Linked DNA regions of Homo sapiens. The protein of the gene in region 1 purifies or fractionates together with the protein of each later gene. This does not show direct contact. Each region holds a gene or a part of one and is shown on either strand. Other genes may lie near its edges.

What was found. Proteins that work in one complex are often made in the same cells at the same time.
Region 2: the proteins of ELMOD1 (region 1) and DSG4 purify together in Homo sapiens (affinity purification with mass spectrometry; 2 studies listed by BioGRID and IntAct, with this or other methods). This does not show direct contact.
Region 3: the proteins of ELMOD1 (region 1) and PKP3 purify together in Homo sapiens (affinity purification with mass spectrometry; 2 studies listed by BioGRID and IntAct, with this or other methods). This does not show direct contact.

The regions. Positions count from the first base shown.
Region 1 is NC_000011.10:107,586,290-107,594,354, reverse strand, and holds the start of ELMOD1 (ELMO domain-containing protein 1), read right to left. Parts: upstream 3,209-8,065; 5' UTR 2,946-3,208; intron 1-2,945. UniProt on the Homo sapiens protein: Acts as a GTPase-activating protein (GAP) toward guanine nucleotide exchange factors like ARL2, ARL3, ARF1 and ARF6, but not for GTPases outside the Arf family.
Region 2 is NC_000018.10:31,407,245-31,415,247, forward strand, and holds the end of DSG4 (desmoglein-4 isoform 2 preproprotein), read left to right. Parts: intron 1-2,207; coding exon 2,208-2,347; intron 2,348-2,500; coding exon 2,501-2,564; intron 2,565-3,865; coding exon of another isoform or gene 3,866-3,986; coding exon 3,987-4,204; intron 4,205-5,583; coding exon 5,584-6,351; 3' UTR 6,352-7,665; downstream 7,666-8,003.
Region 3 is NC_000011.10:396,677-404,679, reverse strand, and holds part of PKP3 (plakophilin-3), read right to left. Parts: coding exon 7,993-8,003; intron 7,867-7,992; coding exon 7,235-7,866; intron 7,142-7,234; coding exon 7,018-7,141; intron 5,689-7,017; coding exon 5,484-5,688; intron 4,714-5,483; coding exon 4,539-4,713; intron 4,347-4,538; coding exon 4,229-4,346; intron 4,146-4,228; coding exon 3,975-4,145; intron 1,603-3,974; coding exon 1,417-1,602; intron 1,063-1,416; coding exon 909-1,062; intron 738-908; coding exon 545-737; intron 445-544; coding exon 357-444; intron 147-356; coding exon 111-146; 3' UTR 1-110. UniProt on the Homo sapiens protein: A component of desmosome cell-cell junctions which are required for positive regulation of cellular adhesion. Required for the localization of DSG2, DSP and PKP2 to mature desmosome junctions.

The DNA.
Region 1 (8,065 bases):
CTCACTGAGGCTATCAGATCAAATCCTTCAACTTCCAGCACCACTCTACTAACTATTAACACAGAGATTTTTTTTTTTTCTCATTTTCGCCCAGGATAAGATCTCGCTCTCTTATTCAAGGCCAGCCCTGTCAAAACTGCTAGGCGTCTCACTCCCTGACTACAGCTGCCCAGCATAATTCAGTGCCTCTTCTAGGCTCCTACAGTAGACACGCCCCTCCACCACCACCATAAACACACACTACTGGCACAGCAACTCCCAGAACTTATGATGCAGATCCCTCCCCCTGCCCCATTTCCCCATGTCATCTTTGCATCCTTGGCACCTTCCACTAAGCCTAGCAAGCAGAGATACCCAACCAATATGTGTTGAAGTGAAACTGTTCACTTTTAAGCATGAGTTATTTTCAAAAGCTTGAACCAGAACTGAGCTTGTCCCAGATTGTCTGCAGAACAGCATATGATTTCTGCTCCACTTTATTTTTTCAACCCATAAATGACCCAAAAAGGAGGAATGAAACATTTCCAGTAACTAAGGTTGCCAGAAAAATACAGGCTGCCCAGTCGAAACTGAATTTAGGATAAACAACTAATAATATTTTGTAGTATAAGTTCGTACCAAATATTACATGGGACATAGGTAAAAACAATAATTCACTGTTTATCTGAAATTCAAATTTAACTGGGCAGCCCACCTTTTTATTTGCTAAATCTGGAAAACCTAACAGTGCTTTGTTAAAAATTCTCAGAGGACTCGGAGAACGCTTCCTTTAATGCACCTGGGGATTTGTATGCAAGCTCCGCAAACTTCTCAATCATCCAGATTTCATGTCTGTTAATGCAACTAGGTTTCTTTCTGAACATCTCAGTAACGTGCTTTAAGAAATGCTGCTTAATTTATTACATGACATTTTCACTTATTTTGTCCATTTCATAGAATTTTTCTTATAATACAATTTATCGAAGATTTTACAAAGAATACTGTAATTTTGCTTAAGATCTCTTGGAAAGCTAACATTTATAGAGTTATTATCATGCCTCAGTTAAGTCCTGGCTGCAAGTATTAATTTTTGAAATTTTCATATTTTCAATTAAATCAGCAGAATGCAAAAAGAGAAATAAACAAATCTTTGATTTGGAGATTTATTTTCTTCATTAATCAAGCACAGCAATACATAGTATCCTTACTAACAGCCTTGCAGAAGCAGCCTGGCAGGCGGAGGTGGAGCCTGTGATGTAACTGCGGTAGGTCTTTGTTGGAAAAGCCTTCCCTAAATGTAAAACATCTGTAAATTGAAGCACTTCAGCTTCACTGTGCATGGGCTGGCAAGATTAAAGAGTTGCTTCTTTCAGCATCCTGTACTGGAGGCTTAAAATTTTGTTCCACAGAGGAATTCCTTATAGGTCTTTACGAAGATTACGTATCTATCTCACCAAAGCTGGGAGAAAAGCAGGCTTTTTCTGCAAAAGAGAACCATTTCGAGTACTGATTGCTGTGTGTGCTGGTTTACTGGTAAATGGTGGTGATGCAATGGAAGTTATAACCCAAAGTGTAGGAAGACGCCCTACAACCTGTTCCAGTCCTCAACGTTCCCTACGTTAATGGGTTCTTCTTTCAGTGTTCTTGACAGTGATGTCTTACAGAGAAGACATTTATTTCTTCTTCCTATGAAAAAGATTAAGATGAGAGAAATACCTCCCAATGTAGATACAAGAGTGTGCCTTTGGCAAAATACCAACTAAACTGACCCCCGAGAAAACTTCTGGGGGAGGGAATGACTAAGTCTGCTGTAACTACGTGTTGTCATAATAGGTTAATGAATTAAGACATTTATCCCAATACAAGCATACTACCTGCTTTCCACCATATTGGCAGCACCAGTTAAGGACGGTTGTCAAGCCACCGGCACAAAACGTATACATTGCAGAGATGCAGAACAATGCCTGGATGCCTGCCCAAAATTGGTCTCTCCAAATGACAGACTCAATTGATAGTACCAATCTACGGCCCACTGGGGGTTAGCAGCGTATTTTCCTAGGTGGTGGGGGAAAGGGATGAAATGTGGAAAGCTCAGGGCACTGTGCAGAGCAGAAAGGCTGACAACATATTCATTAAACTTGATCTGAAGCAAGTGAGCCCGTGAGGTCGTTCCTGAAATATTCATAAGATGTGTTACCGAACTCGCCGCTTAGAGGTTGAGCATAAACACTGAGTCAGAACAGCCCGTACCCACACTTGGAAAACAAAAAAAAGCACCCACAACAGCTCACCCCACCACCACACTCCACTGCTCTGCTTTTAACAGCCCCGTCAGCTGTCAGCTGTCACTCCCCACTCGGCTGTCCAATTCTACCTGCCCGGGAAAGAGATGCTCCAATATTGAAGTGCGGAGTTTCCCAGCAGTTGGAGGAGGCGCAGCTCAACAGCCCAGCCGACCGCTCCTCCCAGCTCGCTGCGCGGAGGACCCCACAGTCCGGCGGCCCCGCAGCCCGGCTGCCTAGCTCCTCCCTGGAGACCGAAGCCCACAAGGCAAGGGGTTCCCAGGGACCCAGACCAGCCCCTCGCCCCAGCCAGGCCGCCCTTGTCCCGCCTTCCATTTTGGCTCTGTCTGGGATCCCTTCCCCGAGCCCTCGGCGTTAGGTCGCTAGGCGACCTACGCCCGGGCCGAGATGCAAACAGCCTCTCGCGCCGACCTGCAGCCTCTCGGGTGTTAATTGGGAGGACAGGATAGAAGGGGAAATCACTGTCCTGGGTGACCCCGGAGCCCCTGCACCAAGGCAGAGTGCACTTTCATTCCCGTTCCCTCTCTGCCCCCGATGCTTAGCATTTCTGCTGCCTCCCAGGCACAGCGCAGCTTGCGTGATGCCTCGCGTCCTCGCCGCACCTCTCTCCTCCCCAAGGGCATTCGCCCCTACTCCCTAGGCTCCTCTGGGGTCGCCAATCACCTGGACTCTGGCGGCGGTAGGCTCAGCAGCTCCCGGCGCGCGGCGGCGTGGTCTTCATCTCCGCCTTCCCCAGGCGCTCCGGCTACGCGCTCCGCGGCGGCGAGCGACGCGCTCGGTCCCGGGCGCCGAGGCTGGACAGGGGCGGCCGCGGCTGCCGCACTGGCTGCGGGCGCGGAAGGGGCGGGGGCGGGGCAGGAATCTGGGTCGCGTGGAGCGGAGCAAGCCGGGATGCACCCGGGGCGGCTGGCGGCGAGGAGGCGACCGAGAGCAGCGGGGGAGGGCGTGCAGAGGCTTCCCTGGGAGCACGAAGCGGGCGGCTACTGAGCATGCCCAGTCCGGGAGCCGGGGGCGCGGGCGCGGTGCTGGGGGAGAGAGCGCGGCACCCAGTGCCGGAATCTGGGGGGAAAGGGTTAAATCTGCGGACCCCGCTGCTGTGGGAGGTGGCTGGTGTGGCCCAGTTTAATTGCTCCCGGGTGGCCTCCCTGGAGGAGCCCACGACAGGAAGATGGTGAACCTGAGATGACCTGTCAATGGGATTCCCAGACAGTCCGGGCAAGGTGTGTTCCCCGCCCTCTCCCTGGATAATTGTCCAGAAGTCAAACTTTGTTTTAGTTCAGCTCCAACCTCCCTCGTCTCACCGAGCACCCAGTGACTCTTCCAATCCTGATCCCCACCCTTCACCTGCCTTCCCGGGACTGCAGAACCCTATCCCTCACCCCAACCGGCAGCCCCCGCCTTTCCCACTCCTGGCCCAGTCGGGTCAGATTCTCAAAGAGCCAGCTCTTTAATTAGGTGTAATTGAGAGATCGTGTCAATCCTGCGAGGTCCATATCTGCATTTCAACAAGGGCTTTAGAAGCAATACCGTAACCCCGGGGTTAATTATAACAGGATGAATTATAGACACCCTCGTCCGGGGCTGTTTGGGGGAACATTGCTTCGTGGGGCCCCAGAAGCCACTTCATACAGACAGAGAGAGAGAGAGAGAGAGAGAGAGAGAGAGAGAGAGAGAGAGAGAGAGAGAGAGAGAGAGAGAGAGAGAGAGAGAGAGAGAGAGAGAGAGAGAGAGAGAGAGAGAAACCTGTGCCTTCCGGATTGCATTTCATGTTTGATGAAGAACGTTTTCTCCATAGCTAATCAAAAAAGTCTCTTTAATGAGGCCGCATGGGGTTGGGGAAAGACCAAATGAGCTTCGAGGTCGGCGCTTATTTTAGTTTCATTCATCACTCCAAGCCGGTTACCTGACCGTCTTGTGCCTCTGTTTCCTCACCTGTAAAACAAAGGGTGGTTAATACCTACCTCTGCGGGCTGTTGTGAGGATTACTTGGGCAGCTGGCGGCGCGGAGCAGCCTGGATACCAAAGCATCTGCCTGTCCCGCAGTGGATGTTCCCTGAATAAAAGTCTCTGCAGGTTCCACCTCCACTATTCTGTGTTTATGAAAAGTTGGGTTAGTGATAATCCTTAAATGCTGAACATTTATCTTATTTCCTCTTCACATTAAATGACCTTAAAGCCTTGACCTTTCTGATTTTTTTAATCATTGTTAAAAGCATTAGCCACTATTTACTTTTCTTTCTTTTCAGGGAGATATGAAGGATACCTCCCTGAATAAACGTCTTGGAAAAAGATAGACCTTTGGAGGGAAAAGCTTCTCGGGAGAGATTCATTAGGGATAGATTAATCCACCTGACAAAAGAATTTTACTCCATAGTCTTTTAAACGTAATTTGCTTGCATCTCCCTGTGGTCCTTGTTTCACAACTATTGCATGAAGTAATGTATGCCTGTATGGAAGGAAATTTACTTCCCATGCATACTGTTGACTATTTAAGTATCAGAATTCAAAAGATAAACTTTTTATTATCCCCCAAACATACTATTTTTTTAATAACACATTGCTTTATTCATGGTGTTCCACCCTTTCTGAAATACCATTCTCAAAAAAAAAAAAAAAAAAAAAGAAATACCATTCTCTCTCATTCTATTTCATGAAGTGCTACTCACTCTTCAAGCTCAAATGTCACCTTCTCTCTGAAGCCTACCCTGAACCTCAAGACAGAGTGAATGCTGTGCTCTCATAGCACCAGTGCATACTGCTATCACAGTACTCATCACAGCCTATCACTGTGGTTCAAGCAATGTAAAACTACTTACTGAGCAACTGTTATTTGCAGGCGCCATTCTACATGTTAGGAAAATAAGAACAAACAAGACAAAGTTCCTGCCCTCATGGAACTTACAGTCTAGTTGAAAAAGACAGAAAATAAACACCTAAACTGTAAATAATCACTAAGGACAGAAGTCTAGTAATTCTGTTAATTTTTGTCTTTGTGTTATCCATCAAATTACGCTATAGAGTCTTGACTCATCCTTCCAAAAAACATCAATAAAAATATTAATATTGGCTCTAGGCCAAACAAATGACATGGACATGGATCTCTGCCAGTTTGTTGCTGAACCAGTGACTTTTACTCCTTTCAGTTGATTCCCTCAGCTAAAACTTTCCTAAACTCAAACCACTCAAGGTAGGTAGCTGCAATCCCATGTGATGAATGGAAAATGGTAGGGGAGGGCTAGAGAGTTTAATCTCCACAACAAATTATATCCTTTATCTAACCTTTAGGAATGGCATTTCTAAAATGTCCAGAATCAACCTGGATCCCCAGATCTCCTGCATCCCAAAAGTCTCTTCCAGGGTCTTGCACACCACTCCCACCCTCTCACCTTTTCACCATCTTTGGCCTCTATTTATGTCAATAGTTATTCTCTGTCATACATCTTCTGTTTGAATCTACCTACTGTCTGAATGACAAGCTTTTCTCTCTGATTCTCTTATTGTCTAAGTGTGAGGCAGCCTTGGTATCACTTAGAACTGACTTCTTCAAAGCATATTTGTACACATGTATGCCATAGCAATTAGAGACAATCTCGCCACTGTTTAATGTGAGTAATTCAAGGGGAGGGTCTCATTCATCTTTGTATTACAGAACTTAGCAGATGACCAATATGTAATAGATACTCAAGGAAAAGTGTGAAAGGAATGAATGAATGTAAGCAGGTTCTCAACTCTATGTGGCTCCTTAGACTATAGTTCTTTTCTAATTGGTTTTCTTGCTAACCCTAGAATTGCTTCACCAGGATCTGGCTCAGTTTTTCTTTTCATAATTTCTCTTCCACCACAAATCCACAGATTTCTCCACCTCTGGGTCCTGCATTATTTTGGGATAAAAATACCTATTGAACAGATTAACATGCAGTCAACAGAGAGGGTATTTGAAGAAACTGAGATCATGTGATGTAGCATTTACAGGTAATGAGTGAAGAATCCAGAGAGGAGAATGTTGTGCCTCTACAGCCTCCCCAGAGTTACAGCCGGAGAGCTGAAGAGGAAGGGGAAGAGCTAGGAGATGCTTTGTCATCAGCTTAGACTCCATACTGGCCCATTACAAGTGACACAGAATTTGAGTCTTTTCCAGACAGGTGGATATATTTCCTTGCTCAGAAGATCTGTTACTGAACATTATCATTTAGAATTTATTTGACTATAAATGTCCTCACCTAGAAATGTCTTCCTTTAGCAAAGGGTAGATTGAGCAATGGACAAGCAAGTTGGAATTTCCTGCCTGGATCATTTTGTGGGTGGGGTGGAAGTCATGGCCCATTTATGTATTTGTAATCTAGCACTGGTCTTAAGCACTGTGGGAGGAAAGTATTCTTCGATGTATTGGCTTCATAATAAAACTAGAAAGGGAATCTTTGGACTTAAAAAGCATGAAGTCTTGTCTAATTTTGCCTAATTGTTGTGTAAAGCTTAGAAATTAATGTAAGGCCACTCTGCTTTCCAATGGAATGGATTTTATAGGCTTATGGTATTCTGGACGTAAAACCACAGCAGCAGCTGGATTCAACATGCTCATTAATATCTATAGTGATAAAATTGTGACTGAGATTACATGAGGGTTAATCATCATGTTAGAGAATGCGTTAAACTAAACAAACTAAGACTCTCAGACATGCTGCTGTGGCAGTCCTCTAAATGTGATCTCGAGAGGGTTTCCAGTGGCACAAGGACTCATCCAAACCGTAATTCATGTCATAACCATTTATTAAGCACTTAGTATATATAAGGCACTATACTAGATACTGGGGATACAAAGCTGGATAAGACACTATGATTTTCAGGAACTCAGATCTGGACAGAAGCATACACACCGCTCCCTGCCCCAACACACACACACACAATGTAGGCTTTTTCTCAAGGTTGGTTTCCAATGTAGAATTAAATCTGTATGAAGTACCCTTCTCGCTGGGCATGGTGGCTGTTTCCTATAGTCCCCATTACTTGGGAGGCTGAGGTGGGAGGATCAATTGAGCCCAGGAATTTGAGACCAGCTTGGGCAACATAGTGAGACCCATCTCAATAAAATGAGGAAAAAAGGTCCCTTCTTCTCTCATCTCAGTTACCTAGTCAGACTCCTCTGTGCCTGGTTTTTGTTTAAGGTGTCATTCTCCTATGACAATGCAGGTCAAAAAATTTTGTGAATGCTGGTGCTCAGGCCCCACTCCTTTCAGAGAAGTCCAAGGGAGTTGAATTAACATCTAAAAGATGGCTGCTCCTGCAGGTACCTAAGAGCAAGAAACTGATGTCAGAAAACAGGGTAAAAGTTAGAATATTTCGTAACTGGCACTGGGTGTGATGTTCCCACAATAAAGTTTTAATGGGCTAATCCTGCAATGGCCTTTACTGATGGCAGCCTCCAGGAGAGGCGTTATAAGTGGCAGCTTCTTACCGGAATTTATTTTTAAGGAGGAAATTTACATTTTGAGGGCATAGAGAACAGTCAAGTTTAGTAAAGGGGAGAAAATGTAGGCTTCTACAGGTCTACAAAAATCAGGCTTAACCAGCTGTTTTACTGCTTCCTGAAATTATATGCTACTTAGCTTGAAGTGAAACCTTTGGTGAAACTCTGGAATGATAGGTTGTCTATTTTGATGTCATGATAAACCTTGAGGACAATGCAGAATGTCCACAAAAAACATATTTGGCATGGCCAACAAATTCAAGGTGTGTCTATCGAAAATGAAGCAACCAGATATGATCTAAAATTAAAACTAGATGGG
Region 2 (8,003 bases), on another chromosome or scaffold:
ATGTTCATGACACACCAGGCATTCTGGGCTTCAGTACAATGGCACAGAAGAGTTGATGAGGGCTGATGAGCGCAGGTGACCCTGCGGTAGGAAGCAAGTAGAAGAGACTAGAACAGAGAATTAGCCTCTGGGCTCTGGGTGAGTGCCTAAACTAAGACTGGTCACAGAAGTGGAAAGATCACCAAACAAAAATTTCCCAAAAAGGGCCCTCCTTTCCCCATAGAGTTTTTTTAAACATATAGATCCTCAGAGGAAGAATACTTCATACATTTTAGGTTGCCCTTGCAATATTTAGGTTTCATGGGGATCAAAAGCTGGGTTCTAAAATTAAAGAGAAGTAAATTTGTCAAACTGTATTGTTGCTGTTTTCAGGGATGAGCACTAATTAAAATGTAATCATTTCAAGGCATAAAAAATAACAGCTGACTTTTGGTGAGGATTTCTTTTTTGAAATAATCTGTGAGGTTTCAAAGCTATGCAAAGATCATGAGTGATTCTCACAATGATATTAGACACATTTTCCCAGAATATAACTCTACAGCAATTGAGTAGTGGTTTCGGGTAAGCTTTGAGTTAGCGGTTCTCAACCCTAGTTGTACATAAGAATTAGTTAAAGGTCTTCCAAAATTACTCATACTAGAGTCATACTCAAGATGAGACCAAGCATCAGCATGTTCAAGCCCTTTGGTGAGACTAATGTGCAGTTCAGGGCTAAAAACCCAGTGCCAGCTGCATTTCCAGAACGTTAGCACTAAGAATTTCAAGACTTTTTCCTGACCCAGACAAAGAAAGCATGAGAGTTGTTCAACTGATGGATTGTAGAATAGGAGAGGAATACCCCTATGGACACTTGTTTTCAATGGAGAAGCCCATGGTCTATTTTAGGAGAGAGGGGGCAGTGTGATGGTAGTGGGAGGGATCTGAGCCCAAACCTATGTTCCCAAAGGGCCTCAAATTGACACTTTTGATGTTAGCTCCAAATGAGATTACACATACAGTAATTGTATTGGGTATGTGCTAAAAACACTTCATTTCATTTATTAGATAGTGCCTTTGTTAGAGTTCAGGCCTGCAATGGTACATGATCCAGCTCACATTTAAATTCACAGAAATATAGAATAGGCAGAACCATGGCCTAGGGGCTACCAATTTTAGTTTTAGTCCTTTTCCAGAAAATGCTATGGAAATGTATAACTTGACCTTTCACTGTTCATAGTGCAGATGGCAAAATTGCCAAATTAATTGTTGTAATAAGACTAAAGCTGATTTTGCAACTTTGATAGTCTCTTCTTTTGTATCTGTTTTTAATTTTTAATTTTTGTGGGTACATAATAGGTGTACATATTTATGGGGTACATTAGCTGCTTTGATACAGGCATGCAATGTGAAATAATCACATCCTGGAGAATGGGGCATCCATCCCCTCAAGCATTTATCCTTCTATTCTTTATCTTTAATTAACCCACTTAGTAAAATGCATGCCATGCTAGAGAATTAGGAAAGTATGAAAAGCAACCAGAGTGGGCCCAAAGAACTAAACAGAGTGTATTCTAGAATCTTAGAAAACTTAAGCAGTGTCTATATTTATGGATTAAAATACAGAATTGAGGTGATTATTAGGGTAACAAATAGGAAATTTCCTCTTAAGAAACACTTGGATAGCTAAACATTTTTGATAGCTTTAATTTTTCATTATAGTCTATAAACAAAGTCTTAAAATAATTGTAAATATCTCCATTAAATTTAGTGAGTATTATTTGACTTCTATTTTAAGTGTAACTGTAATAAGGATTGAAGATAGGTCCTATCTCCAGGTCCTATAGCTGAATCCTGTATTCAATCCTCTTGATAACATATATTCATGATGCGTTTAACTTACATGTATGTGTGCATCTGCCCCAACCAGTTCAAGAGTCTTAGACTAAAGACGACCTTACTTTCCTAATCTGTCAGCAAAGAAATTCAATTACCTGATCGCAAACTCCTTGCCATCTAGCGCTAAAGTTCTATGTGATTTGGTGGTGCTGTATTTATAAACTTGGATATGTATACTCAATCCCCTAAAGGAAAAAAATGAGATTTTCTTACATATATTTGTATTTTTGTTCTAAATATACTGCCACCAAATGCTCCCCAGAATGATTCATCCAGTGACTTCCTAAACCGAGCAATGTGTGTTAACTCGACATTGTCACTTTCTTGGGCAGTGGCTCCACTCTTGCTGCTCCTGTGTTGCTGCAAACAGAGACAGCCAGAAGGCCTGGGAACAAGATTTGCTCCTGTGCCTGAGGGCGGAGAAGGAGTGATGCAGTCTTGGAGAATTGAAGGGGCCCATCCCGAGGACAGGGTAAGTGGACTGTCACTCTCCAGAGAAGTGTGGAGTTTCAGTGGAAATTGAGCATGTCTTAACAATTACATGCTGCACAAAAATGAACAGATGTCAGTTTTTAAATGTTTAACATAAAGCGTTTGTTTTTAAAATGTTTATTTTTCTTTTCAGGATGTGTCAAATATATGTGCACCCATGACAGCCTCAAATACCCAGGATCGGATGGATTCCTCTGGTCAGTAGACACCAAAATCTGTTTTTCCTTTTAAATTTTTCAAAATTATTCAACCAGACCAACTTCATGTAAAAGTACCTTATGGAAAAGTCTGTCAGTCTCTTTGGGTGACAGTATAATTAGAGGGAATGTGACCTGTTTGAAGTAGCCACTTTTTTTTTCTATCTGAAACTACAGACAGTGAAGTATGACACAGCAGTTAAAAGAGCAAACTCTGGAAGCAGAATGCTTGGGTTTGATTCCCAGCTCTGCCACTTGCTTAAGGGTTGCATATCTTTTATCCGAAATGCATAGGACCATGAGTTTGAGTTTGGCTCAAACTTTTTGTACCATGATGATCAAAAAGTTTCAGACTTAGGAGCATTTTGGATTCTTGATTATTGGATTTGGGATGCTCAACCTGTAGTAATAAGTCCTTAGTCAAGACATTTAACCTCACTGGGCCTCAGTTTCCTTATCTTTAAAATTGAGCTTATGATAGTACCTACTTTAAAGTGTTGCTGTGAGGAGTAAATAATACATATTACATATGTAATATATAATACATACATATATTGTATAGATTATTTTATTATATATAACATACATGTGTATGTGTGTCTATATATATACACACACACATATATAAGTGTGTATATATACATATATCACAAAATATACGTTAGAGTAGTGCCTGGCACTGTAGTAATTATTTATAATACAAGCTGTTTTTTTTTAAAGAGCTAAAGAAAAGGCAGTAAATGTACTCTAATAATACACTGAATAACTTTTCTTAACTTCAGACAAGCTTTTGCCTCAAAAGAGTGTCGTAAACTCTCCTATCTTACCAGCCCCACGCATATCTAACAATACTGAACACACTACTTAGCTATATGGCAATGATTGCACCAAACAGAGAGGGTGCTTAATTCTGCAGTGCACGTGAGCTTTCTCTGATGGTTCCTTAGTATCCCAAGCTTGGCCCTTTGTATGCAAAGAAACTCCGTGACTGAACATCCCTGTGAGCCCAGCTCCATCCTGTTCCGGAGTGAAGGAGGACTATGAGCTCAGTTTCTGCAATCACGCCGCTGGCCTTGCTTTGGAGGGCTCCCGGCTGGATCAAGCCCGCAGCAGCCACGGCGGGAACGGGCGCCTGCTTGTAGTTCTCTTGGCTAGTTCTACACCTTTAAGTCTAGGGCGAAGTCTGTGCAAATGTGGGAAGGCCACGTCCCACCACTGACTCCCTCTGTGTAATTAATTTACTTTTATTTGGTCAACAAGCCTGGAGATGTATCGGTGTAACTTGTATCTCTCTTTGTCAGCTTTTTAGCGCCTACGCCTTGCCGGGTGGTGGTGGCACCGCAGACGGCGGCGGCAGCGTTTTAGGCAGATGCGCGCTGCAGGCAACTCCAGCGCTGTTAAACCAACATCCTCCCTTTTCAGAAATCTACACCAACACCTATGCAGCCGGGGGCACGGTGGAAGGAGGTGTATCGGGAGTGGAGCTCAACACAGGTATGGGGACAGCCGTTGGCCTCATGGCCGCAGGGGCCGCAGGAGCCTCAGGGGCCGCAAGGAAGAGGAGCTCTACCATGGGAACCCTGCGGGACTACGCTGACGCAGACATCAACATGGCTTTCTTGGACAGCTACTTCTCGGAGGTAATGCCCTCACAGTCACACATAAAATCGTCTTGAGATTGAATAATAATAATAGTAAAATACTCACAATGGTAGTAGGCCTCTTCGGAAATATGCTGTTATTCTCAACCCTATCCCAAACCTGAATAAAAAGTATTTCACGTCTCCTTAAAACACAAAATGCTAATTTGCCACAGGATTTCATATTCAACTGCCATAGCGCATCTTAGTACCGTGAACAAGGCCACACCCCTCATCATTCTCCACTTCCCTTTTCCATTTTTCTATCTTTTGTTTCCTTGATTCCTCACCTTGTTTCCCACAGCAGTAGCAAAGCAGGAAAATGCTCATCAAGGGGAAAAAAGGTGCATTTATGACCTCTGTTTTTGATGTCCTTCATGTTCTCCCGGAGCCTCCAACAGAAAAGAGAAAATAAAAAGAATTGGGAACGAAAGGAGTTAAAACTCAGGAACGCAGCATCACCACAACTCGTGCTAGATTAAGACCTAGAAGATAGCTCTCCTATTCTCAGTCCAGTGACTTATCCACCAACTGACCTTCACTACGAAAAGGGGTCCAGCAATAGCACTGCTGGGTATATATCCAAAAGAAAGGAAATCAGTATATCAAAGAAATATATGCACCCCCATGTTTATTGCAGCACTAGTCACGTAGCCAATACATGGAATCAACCTGTGTCCATCAACTGATGATTGGACTTCTAAAATGTGATTCATATACCCAATGGAATATTATTCAGCCATAAAAAATGAAATTTTGTCATTTTGCAACAACATGGATGGAACTGGAGGACACTGTTAAGTGAAATATGCCAGGCACAGAAAGACTAATTTGACATGTTCTCACTCATCTGTGGAAGCTAAAAGGAAAAACCGAACTCATGGAGATAGAGAGTAGAATGATGGTTACTAGAGGCTGACAAGGGTAGTAGGGAGGGGAAACAGTGGGATGGTTAATAGGTGCAAAAATACTGTTAGAATGAAGAAGATCTAGTATTTGGTAGCACAACAGGATTGCTATAGTTAACAATAATTTATTACACATTTTAAAAGAACTAAAATAGAACTAGAATTTTATCTCATATTTCAGTCGGCCTGCTTTATTCTCCATCTGTTCATACATGAATTTCACCATGATTCTTTACCAAACAAATGCTGAAGATGTTGTTGCAATTGTAAACTATATCTTAAAATTGGTAGTTACAAATGCTATCACAGAATGTGCATGGATAGTATCAATTATTTTAATGAGTGATTGATACCATTATTCAGTTTATTCCGTAACAACTTAACTCAGAAGTCTCTCTGAGGGATTGCTGTTATTCTTCCTTATTTTAGGGAAAAAGAAATTTCTAATTCTGTATTTCCTTTTAATTTTAGAAAGCGTATGCTTATGCAGATGAAGATGAAGGTCGACCAGCCAATGACTGCTTGCTCATTTATGACCACGAGGGAGTCGGGTCTCCCGTAGGCTCTATTGGTTGTTGCAGTTGGATTGTGGATGACTTAGATGAAAGCTGCATGGAAACTTTAGATCCAAAATTTAGGACTCTTGCTGAGATCTGCTTAAACACAGAAATTGAACCATTTCCTTCACACCAGGCTTGTATACCAATCAGTACTGACCTCCCTTTGCTCGGACCTAATTACTTTGTTAATGAATCTTCAGGATTGACTCCCTCAGAAGTTGAATTCCAAGAAGAAATGGCAGCATCTGAACCCGTGGTCCATGGGGATATTATTGTGACTGAGACTTACGGTAATGCTGATCCATGTGTGCAACCCACTACAATTATTTTTGATCCTCAGCTTGCACCCAATGTTGTAGTAACCGAAGCAGTAATGGCACCTGTCTATGATATTCAAGGGAATATTTGTGTACCTGCTGAGTTAGCAGATTACAACAATGTAATCTATGCTGAGAGAGTACTGGCTAGTCCTGGTGTGCCTGACATGAGCAATAGTAGCACGACTGAGGGTTGTATGGGACCTGTGATGAGCGGCAATATTTTAGTAGGGCCAGAAATTCAAGTGATGCAAATGATGAGTCCAGACCTTCCCATAGGCCAAACCGTTGGCTCCACATCCCCCATGACATCTCGACACAGAGTAACACGATACAGTAACATACATTACACCCAACAGTAAGTGCTTTATGGTCAGTATTCTATGTGGAGACCTTGCACCTTGTAATCATCAATACATCCACCAAAAATATATAATGTACCATATATATTAATAGTCAACAAATACTCAGATATTCTAAGGTCAATGCCATTATTTGATTATACCATTTTGAGGGTGAATATGGCTAGGCACTTTAGATAAGCCTTTTTAAAATTCTTTCTGATTTTAAATAATGCGTCAAAAAATGTGCAGAAAATGTATTGCATCCCTTGATACTGTCTAACGAATAGCACATAACTCATATTGTGAATCCTATGGGTCTTGAGGCCTGTAGAACCAATCTTGTAAACCAAGATGCCTTGTTCTTGGAAGTTACAAAAGAAGCCCTGTCTACATCCACCAGCCATATTTTTCGTTAGGGAAATATTTATATTAAAATTTTTAATTGAAAAGTTGAATGAAATGTACATTCTGAAAGGAAATTGAAAAGGAACGTAGAGTATCTGTCAATATCTTTAGATATCTGAAGTCATTTGTCTCTTCAAAAGATTTTTCAATATTATGCGCTATTAAGCAATAGGAGATGCTTAATATAATAAGAAAAGAGTTTGCCAACTGAAAGCATGGCTGGAAATGGTTCATCAAAGAAAAATATATATTTTTATTGAACTTTATTGATTTATATGATTAACTGTAAATTAATCTAGAATAGCAAAAAAAAATGACAATCCTAAAGTAGAAAGAGTTATTGGGGAAATATTAGAGTTTTCCCCACTTACAGGGAATTTTTTCCCTACTGTTGCCAATTATGTCAGAAAAATACATGAAATATGGCTTAACCAATTTCATTGACCTGAATCGTAGAGCTTTCAATTGGCAACCAGATATTCTCCAAAAGCACTCTGTAGTTATTCATATATTCTACAATATTTACTTAGAAGCAACTAGGTGTTGGGTGCTAGTCTTGGCTCTGTGAATATACAGGTAAAGAAGACAGACATGGTTTCTGCCTTCATAGAGCTTCTATTCATTTCTAGACTTAAAATAAAACTCTGGGATATGGCTTTAAGTTCCTAACAACAATAATTAACCAACTACTTAAGTCCATTACCAAGTTGTGTTTCTCTTTGCAACACTACTGTTTATGTTGAATAAATAAAATGGAAACACATTGCTTACTTTTCGTAGGCATAAAGCTGACTTGAGAAAAAGAATCTCTAGCCAGGTAATTTTACTTAATTCTGTAAAATATGTATACAGTAGCAGCAATAATGTGACTGAGATAATGTAAATGAAATAAACTTATTTTCAAGGCTTAATCCTTTTGAAAGGAAATAATTGTAGTGTTTCTTGCCTATCTTTTGCTCCTTTATGAATAAAACTATTGTAGAATTTAAGTCATCTCAGATAACCTCTTACCTAGTTCTCTCATTTTCTGGACAATGAATCTAGAAATAGAGAGGTTAAATGACCACAACCAGCTAGTTGTGGTACAAAGCCTTGAACCCATTGTTCAGATACGCTAGCCAGTATGCTTTTTTATACTATAACTTCACCAGATCTGAAGAGGATCCAAACCTGCCTGTTGCATACTCTTTGCTATTCCCTAATTGGAAGAAAAACTCTCTCTCAAAAAATTAAGTTTTAAAGTGTAAGCGCAGACCAGCTAAAAC
Region 3 (8,003 bases), about 110 Mb from region 1:
GGCCCCTCCGTCATTAGCCTTCTCCTCCAGGCTGGGCTGCCAAGCAGCCTGGAGCTGAGTCTGTCCCTTGGACGCTGGGCCACGTCACCTTCTCCTCCAGAAGGCTTCACCTATGGGCCCAGGAAGTCCTCCTTCCGATAGCCCTTCTACAGTGGAGAGAGGCCCAAGGTCAGGGTGCATGTCTGCCCATGTGGCCCTCTGCCCGCTGTCCCTCCTGCAGTGTGCTGGGTGTGGCCCGGACCCTTCCTCTCTGGGTCCCTGGTCTCCATCCTCCCATGGGCCTCTTCACTGACCCTCCCCCGGCGTCCCATGCCCTGCACCCGGGTCCCTGCTTGCCCTGGGCTCGGGAAACGTACCGCCCGGAAGTCACGGTGGAGCTTGTTGTACTGCCACAGGTTGGCCAGGAGGCTGGATGCTGCCCGGGAGGACTTCTCACTGTCGGGGCTGAGGGTGGAGGGCAGTCAGGAGGGGACACACAGCCAGAAAGCAGGGTGGACTGGGAGGACCCCTGACCAGGCTGCTGCACGGCTGGGTCGGCCCCTACCTGTCCCGCTTCTTCTTGATGAAGATGAGCTTTCGGAGTCCGTCAAAATACAGCAGGTCTCGGGCAGCGATGGGGCTGGCCACCACCAGGTTGTTGAGCACAGCTATGATGTTGACCAGCACCTCGGCTGGGGGCGACTTCTCACCCACGCTGCCCGGCAGCTTCTCGATCAGGTGGCTCACCACCTTCGTGGCTGTGGGAGGCCGGGGGTCAGTCTGCACCCCTACTCCTGGCCACCTGGGCACCTGGGGTCCCCTGCCTCCCCCAGGGAGCTGGACTGGCCCCAGTGGTCTGAAGCCCACACTTAAAGACAAAATTGACATGTGGGTCCAGCAGGGCAGGGACGAGGGGCTGCCCGACTCACACATCTCGTCCTTGTTCCTAGCGTTCCGAGACAGGTTTCGGATGAGGCCAGTCAGTGAGCGCAGCTGGTGGTGGTCGGCGGTCCTGACACGGTCTAGCAGGGGGTTCAGAATACGCTCCTGCTCCAGGGCCAGGCGGCTCAGCACCCCCGCCCACTGTGGGGAGGGAGGGTGTGAGCCGTGACCCGGAGGCCTCAGACCCTCACCTGAGGGGGTCCTGCCACAATGGGGTCGCTGCATCCTCTCGCCACCCTCAGGGGGGCCTCTGCTTCTGCCTTTGCCCCCCAGCCGGGGGGAATCAGCCGCAGCCCGGATCAGGTGCCTCCCTTCAAACCCAGGGCAGGACTTCCATCCTCCCAAGGCCCAAGGCCTGCGCCACCGGGACGCTGACCTCCGAGGCTCCGCGGACCCTGGGCGTCCCCTTCCTCCTCCCCTCCCTCTCCCTCCTCTGTCCCCCCCTCAACCGCATGAACCCCTGGGACCCCCTCGGGTCTGGGTTGGGTGCCCCACCCTGCGGTCGCCTGCCGTGATGTTCTGCAGCGCCCCGGCGGCCGCCTCCGTCGTGTGCCGGTTGAGCTCGCAGCGCTGCAGCAGCCGGTTGTACAGCCCCACGATCTGGGGGCTCCACAGCCACTCGAGGCCCTTGGGGTCCTTGGACACCTCCGCGAAGGTGAGCGCATCGGCGGCGAGGGGCAGCTGCGCAGGGCGGGGAGGAGTCGGCGGGGTCGGGGTGAGCGGGTCGGGGTGAGCGGGTCGGGGTGAGCGGGTCGGGTGTGAGTGGGGCGGGGGTGAGCGGGGTCCGGGGTGAGCGGGGCGGGGGTGAGCGGGGCCGGGGGTCGGGGGTGAGCGGGGTCCGGGGTGAGCGGGGCGGGGGTGAGCGGGGTCCGGGGTGAGCGGGGTCGGGGTGAGCGGGTCCCGGGGTGAGCGGGGCGGGGGTGAGCGGGGCGGGGGTGAGCGGGGCCGGGGGTGAGCGGGGCCGGGGGTCGGGGGTGAGCGGGGTCGGGGTGAGCGGGGCCGGGGGTGAGCGGGGCCCGGGGTGAGCGGGGCAGGGGTGAGCGGGGCGGGGGTGAGCGGGGTCGGGGTGAGCGGGTCGGGGGTGAGCGGGGCCGGGGGTCGGGGGTGAGCGGGGTCGGGGTGAGCGGGTCGGGGGTGAGCGGGGCCGGGGGTCGGGGGTGAGCGGGGTCGGGGTGAGCGGGGCCGGGGGTGAGCGGGGCCGGGGGTCGGGGGTGAGCGGGGTCGGGGTGAGCGGGGCCGGGGTCAGTGGAGCCGGGGGTGAGCGGGGCCGGGGGTCGGGGGTGAGCGGGGTCCGGGGTGAGCGGGGCCGGGGTCAGTGGAGCCGGGGGTGAGCGGGGCCGGGGGTCGGGGGTGAGCGGGGTCCGGGGTGAGCGGGGCCGGGGTCAGTGGAGCCGGGGGTGAGCGGGGCCGGGGGTCGGGGGTGAGCGGGGCCGGGGGTCGGGGGTGAGCGGGGTCCGGGGTGAGCGGGGCCGGGGTCAGTGGAGCCGGGGGTGAGCGGGGCCGGGGGTCGGGGGTGAGCGGGGTCCGGGGTGAGCGGGGCCGGGGTCAGTGGAGCCGGGGGTGAGCGGGGCCGGGGGTCTGGGGTGAGCGGGGTCGGGGTGAGCGGGGCCGGGGTCAGTGGAGCCGGGGGTGAGCGGGGCCGGGGGTCGGGGGTGAGCGGGGTCCGGGGTGAGCGGGGCCGGGGTCAGTGGAGCCGGGGGTGAGCGGGGCCGGGGGTCGGGGGTGAGCGGGGTCCGGGGTGAGCGGGGCCGGGGTCAGTGGAGCCGGGGGTGAGCGGGGCCGGGGGTCGGGGGTGAGCGGGGCCGGGGGTCGGGGGTGAGCGGGGTCCGGGGTGAGCGGGGCCGGGGTCAGTGGAGCCGGGGGTGAGCGGGGCCGGGGGTCGGGGGTGAGCGGGGTCCGGGGTGAGCGGGGCCGGGGTCAGTGGAGCCGGGGGTGAGCGGGGCCGGGGGTCGGGGGTGAGCGGGGCCGGGGGTCGGGGGTGAGCGGGGCGGGGGTGAGCGGGGCGGGGGTGAGCGGGGTCGGGGGTGAGCGGGGTCGGGGGTGAGCGGGGCCGGGGGTGAGCGGGGCCGGGGGTGAGCGGGGCGGGGGTGAGCGGGGCGGGTGTGAGCGGGGCCGGGTGTGAGCGGGGCCGGGTGTGAGCGGGGCCGGGTGTGAGCGGGGCGGGTGTGAGCGGGGCCGGGTGTGAGCGGGGCCGGGGGTGAGCGGGCCGGGGGTGAGCGGGGCGGGTGTGAGCGGGGCGGGTGTGAACGGGGCCGGGGGTGAGCGGGGCCGGGGGTGAGCGGGGCGGGTGTGAGCGGGGCGGGTGTGAGCGGGGCGGGTGTGAGCGGGCCGGGTGTGAGCGGGGCCGGGTGTGAGCGGGGCGGGTGTGAGCGGGGCCGGGGGTGAGCGGGGCGGGTGTGAGCGGGGCCGGGTGTGAGCGGGGCCGGGTGTGAGCGGGCCGGGGGTGAGCGGGGCGGGTGTGAGCGGGCCGGGGGTGAGCGGGGCGGGTGTGAGCGGGGCGGGTGTGAACGGGGCCGGGTGTGAGCGGGGCCGGGGGTGAGCGGGGCGGGTGTGAGCGGGCCGGGTGTGAGCGGGGCCGGGTGTGAGCGGGGCCGGGTGTGAGCGGGGCAGGTGTGAGCGGGGCCGGGGGTGAGCGGGGCGGGTGTGAGCGGGGCCGGGTGTGAGCGGGGCCGGGTGTGAGCGGGCCGGGGGTGAGCGGGGCGGGGGTGAGCGGGGCCGGGTGTGAGCGGGGCGGGTGTGAGCGGGGTCCGGGGTGAGCGGGGTCCGGGGTGAGCGGGGCGGGGGTGAGCGGGGCGGGTGTGAGCGGGGCCGGGGGTGAGCGGGGCGGGGGTGAGCGGGGTCCGGGGTGAGCGGGGCGGGGGTGAGCGGGGCGGGGGTGAGCGGGGCGGGTGTGAGCGGGGTCGGGGGTGAGCGGGGCGGGGGTGAGCGGGGTCCGGGGTGAGCGGGGCGGGGTGAGCGGGGCGGGGGTGAGCGGGGCGGGGGTGAGCGGGGCCGGGGTCAGCGGGGCCGGGGTCGCAGCACCCACCCCACGCCCCGCTCAGGCTGGTGCCCACCTCGCGCAGCCGCCGGCTCTGCGGCGTGAAGCAGCCCACGACCTCTCCCGGCGGCGCCCCCGCCAGGTCCCTGCGGCCGCGACCCTCCAGCCGCTGCAGCGCGGACGGCGGCATCTCGTCGTAGAGGCGGTAGGACAGGTTCCGCAGGACGCACACCGCGTTCTCCACGCTCTGCGGGCGGGGGCGCGGGGCAGGGGCGCGGGTCAGAGCGGCGGCCCGGGGGCACGGCCCCTCCTCCACACCGCGCCCCTCACCTTGTCCTCGCATTTGCCCGCGTCCAGGGCGTGGTTGATAGAGGTGACCAGGGCGTCCACCAGCCCGTGGCACTCCCGCATCTTCTGGCGAGTGGCCTGAGAGGCTGAGCTGAGGTTCCTGGGGACCGAGGTGGATCAGAGCCCCCCAGGGACCCCGCATCCCGGGCCTTGCCCCAACCCATCGTGGGCCCTCGCACGCCCATCCCCAGCGCGAGGCGTGCGGTGTGTGGGCTGCGAACGCCAGGCCAGGCGGAGTCCCCACAGTGACCCGCGCCTGCAATCCCCACCCCGCTGCCCGAGGCTGGCGCACCTGAGGAAGCCGGTGGCGTTGTAGAAGATCTCTGCCTCCGAGGCGTTCTGCTGGATGAGGGGGGGACCCCCAGCCCCCGACAGGGGGCTCAACACCAGGTCTGTGAGCTGCTCCAGCGTGTCTCTGGCCAGGCGGTCCTTCAGGTGGTCGCTGGATGAAAGGTTCCACAGGATCCCTGGAGGACGGGGGAGGCTGCTATCAGCGTCTGCCCTCCAACCCCCTCCGCGTTTCTGGGGATGGTGTGAAGAGGTCCCGCCTCTCCCCAGGGGCTGGCCTGGTGTTCTGTGCCTCACCCACGAGCCCCACTGGGGAGACCCTGGGGTGGCATTTGAGGTGATAGAGCTGGGACCAAGCAAGAGGGGACAAGATGTGGGGGTGGGGTGGTGAGCAGGCCTGGCAGTGCAGGCGGCTCCAAGGAGACAAAACCACAGGACAGGGTGGCCGGGGGTCCAGGAAAGAGGCGGGCAGTGGAGGCCCAAGTAGAAACACGGCCGGCAAAAGGTACAAAGGGACGGAGGGGAACCGAATGAGGTGGAGGGGTCAGAACGGAGGAGAGAGGACAGGCAGAGGAGGGACAGGAGGAGGGGGACAGGCAGAAAAGGGGGACAGGTGGAGGGGGGGACAGGTGGGGGATAGGCAGAGGGGGCAGGTGGAGGAGGGGGGCCAGGTGGGGGGGACACAGAGGGAGGACAGGAGGAGTAGGGGACAGGCAGAGGGGGCAGGTGGAGGAGGGGGCAGGTGGAGGAGTGGGGCAGATGGCGGGCAGGTGGGGGGGTAAGGCAGAGGGGGGGAGGAGGAGTAGGGGGGCAGGTGGCAGAGGGGGCAGGTGGAGAAGGGGGGCAGATGGTGGGCAGGTGGAGGGGGGCAGGTGGGGAGGAAGGCAGGGGGGATAGGCAGAGGGGCGCAGGTGGAGGAAGGACAGGTGGAGGAGGGGACAGGCAGCACCTGTGACATTTTTGCGAAGCTCATCATCCTGCTCCCGCAGTGTCCGCAGCAGCTCGAAGATCCCGTTCTCCTCCACCAGGGCCAGCTTGTTGTCAGCGTTGTCGTAGATGAGGTTGCGCATGGCACCTGTGGCATGGCGCTGCACTTCCTGGTTGGCGTGGTTGAAGAGCTTCACCAGCCTAGGCACGGCCTGAAGGCTGCGGGCCTGCGGGCACAGGCATATGGGGGTGCACAGACGCATGTGGATGGATGCAGACTATGCACCTGTGTGCAGCTGTGTCCAGGTGCGTAGATGTAGATATGCAGGGGATGCAGCCGTATAGGGAGGTGACGGAGGTGTGTGCGGCGGTAGGGAGGTGACGGAGGTGTGTGCGGGGGTACGGAGGTGACGCAGGTGTGTGCGGGGGTACGGAGGTGACGGAGGTGTGTGCGGGGGTACGGAGGTGACGCAGGTGTGTGCGGGGGTAGGGAGGTGACGCAGGTGTGTGCGGGGGTACGGAGGTGACGCAGGTGTGTGCGGGGGTAGGGAGGTGACGCAGGTGTGTGCGGGGGTAGGGAGGTGACGCAGGTGTGTGCGGGGGTAGGGAGGTGACGCAGGTGTGTGCGGGGGTAGGGAGGTGACGCAGGTGTGTGCGGGGGTACGGAGGTGACGCAGGTGTGTGCGGGGGTACGGAGGTGATGCAGGTGTGTGCGGGGGTAGGGAGGTGACAGAGGTGTGTGCGGGGGTACGGAGGTGACGCAGGTGTGTGCGGGGGTAGGGAGGTGACGCAGGTGTGTGCGGGGGTACGGAGGTGACGCAGGTGTGTGCGGGGGTAGGGAGGTGACGCAGGTGTGTGCGGGGGTACGGAGGTGACGGAGGTGTGTGCAGGGGTACGGAGGTGACGCAGGTGTGTGCGGGGGTAGGGAGGTGACGCAGGTGTGTGCGGGTGTACGGAGGTGATGAGGTATATGTGGGGGTAGGGAGGTGACGCAGGTGTGTGCGGGGGTACGGAGGTGATGAGGTATATGTGGGGGTAGGGAGGTGACGCAGGTATGTGCGGGTGTACGGAGGTGATGAGGTATATGTGGGGGTAGGGAGGTGACACAGGTGTGTGCGGGGGTACGGAGGTGACGGAGGTGTGTGCGGGGGTACGGAGGTGACGCAGGTGTGTGCGGGGGTACGGAGGTGACGCAGGTGTGTGTGGGGGTATGGAGGTGATGCAGGTGTGTGCGGGGGTACGGAGGTGACGGAGGTGTGTGCGGGGGTATGGAGGTGATGAGGTATATGTGGGGGTACGGAGGTGACGCAGGTGTGTGCGGGTGTACGGAGGTGATGAGGTATATGTGGGGGTACGGAGGTGATGCAGGTGATACTGGTGTATCCAAATTGTATCCTTCTGCTCTTCCTCTGCTGAGGGGGCTCCAGACAGAGTGGGGTCTACCCAGTCAGCTTGGGGATCATGAGGGGTGCTCAGTGAGCAGAGGACAGTGGGAGGTGGTGGGGCCCACGAAGGAGGTCACCAGGGGGCAGCGAGTGGGTGGTCGGGGTGGTCACCTGCTTCTTGGCGGCTGCATCGCTGTAGCACTTGTGCTGGATGTAGGCCGCTCCCAGCACCTGCAGGTTGGGGTCTGAAGCCATGAGGTACTTGACTGCTGAGGGCAGGTCAATGTCATCAAAACTGCGGAGCCAGGGGTCAGGGGTCAGGCTAACTTTGGGTTCAGGCTGGGCCCGTGGTAGAAGCCCCCTCCCTGAGCCGGGCCCAGCCGCTCACCCGCTGCTGAGTCTCTGCAGGGTTCGGTGGCTACCGTAGCTGTTGAACCCATGCACGTCCGGCAGGTGGCCCGAGTCAGCCAGGCTGAGGCTGAGGCTGCGCACAGATGGCGCTCGAGCCACTGGCTCCAGGACGGCCCCCGGCACTGCCCCGCCTACCCCGCGGCTCCGGTGGCTGCTCTGGAATCGCTGCAGGGTCCGCACGGCAGGGGCACGGATGGTCCGGCTCGGGGAAACCTCAGTGGCCTCGGGCCAGTCCAGCCCCCCTGCCCGGCTGGAGCTGGAGCTGGCCTGGCGCTCGTACGCAAAGGCCCTGTAGGTGGAGGTGGCCGCGGGCTCCAGCTGCTCAGACACCAGGCTGTAGCGGTCGTCCAGGCCCCCGGGCCCCAGCCGCAGCGAGCGCAGGGAGAGTGTGTCATAGTCGGCCCGGCTCCCAACCCCACCGCGCTCATGGAAGGACACGGGCCTGGTGGGCATGGGAGGGGTGGGCTGGGCACCCCCGTACCCAGCGGCCCCAAAGGCGCTGCCCCCGTTGTGGGCTGAACTCAGCCTCCGACTGCAGCTCAGATCCACGGCGGAGCGGGAGGACCAGGAGGCTGGGCTGTAGGCCGGCTTGGCGATGGGCCGGAAGCCCTGTGGGTCGAGAGGGGGCGGTGAGGGCGTGCCTGGGCTCACCTGTGTCCGGGCCCGCTGCAGAGCCTCCCACTCTCCAGACTGCAGAGCTCAGATCGTCCCCCTCGGGCTGGGCCCATCGCTCACCGAGGTCTTGT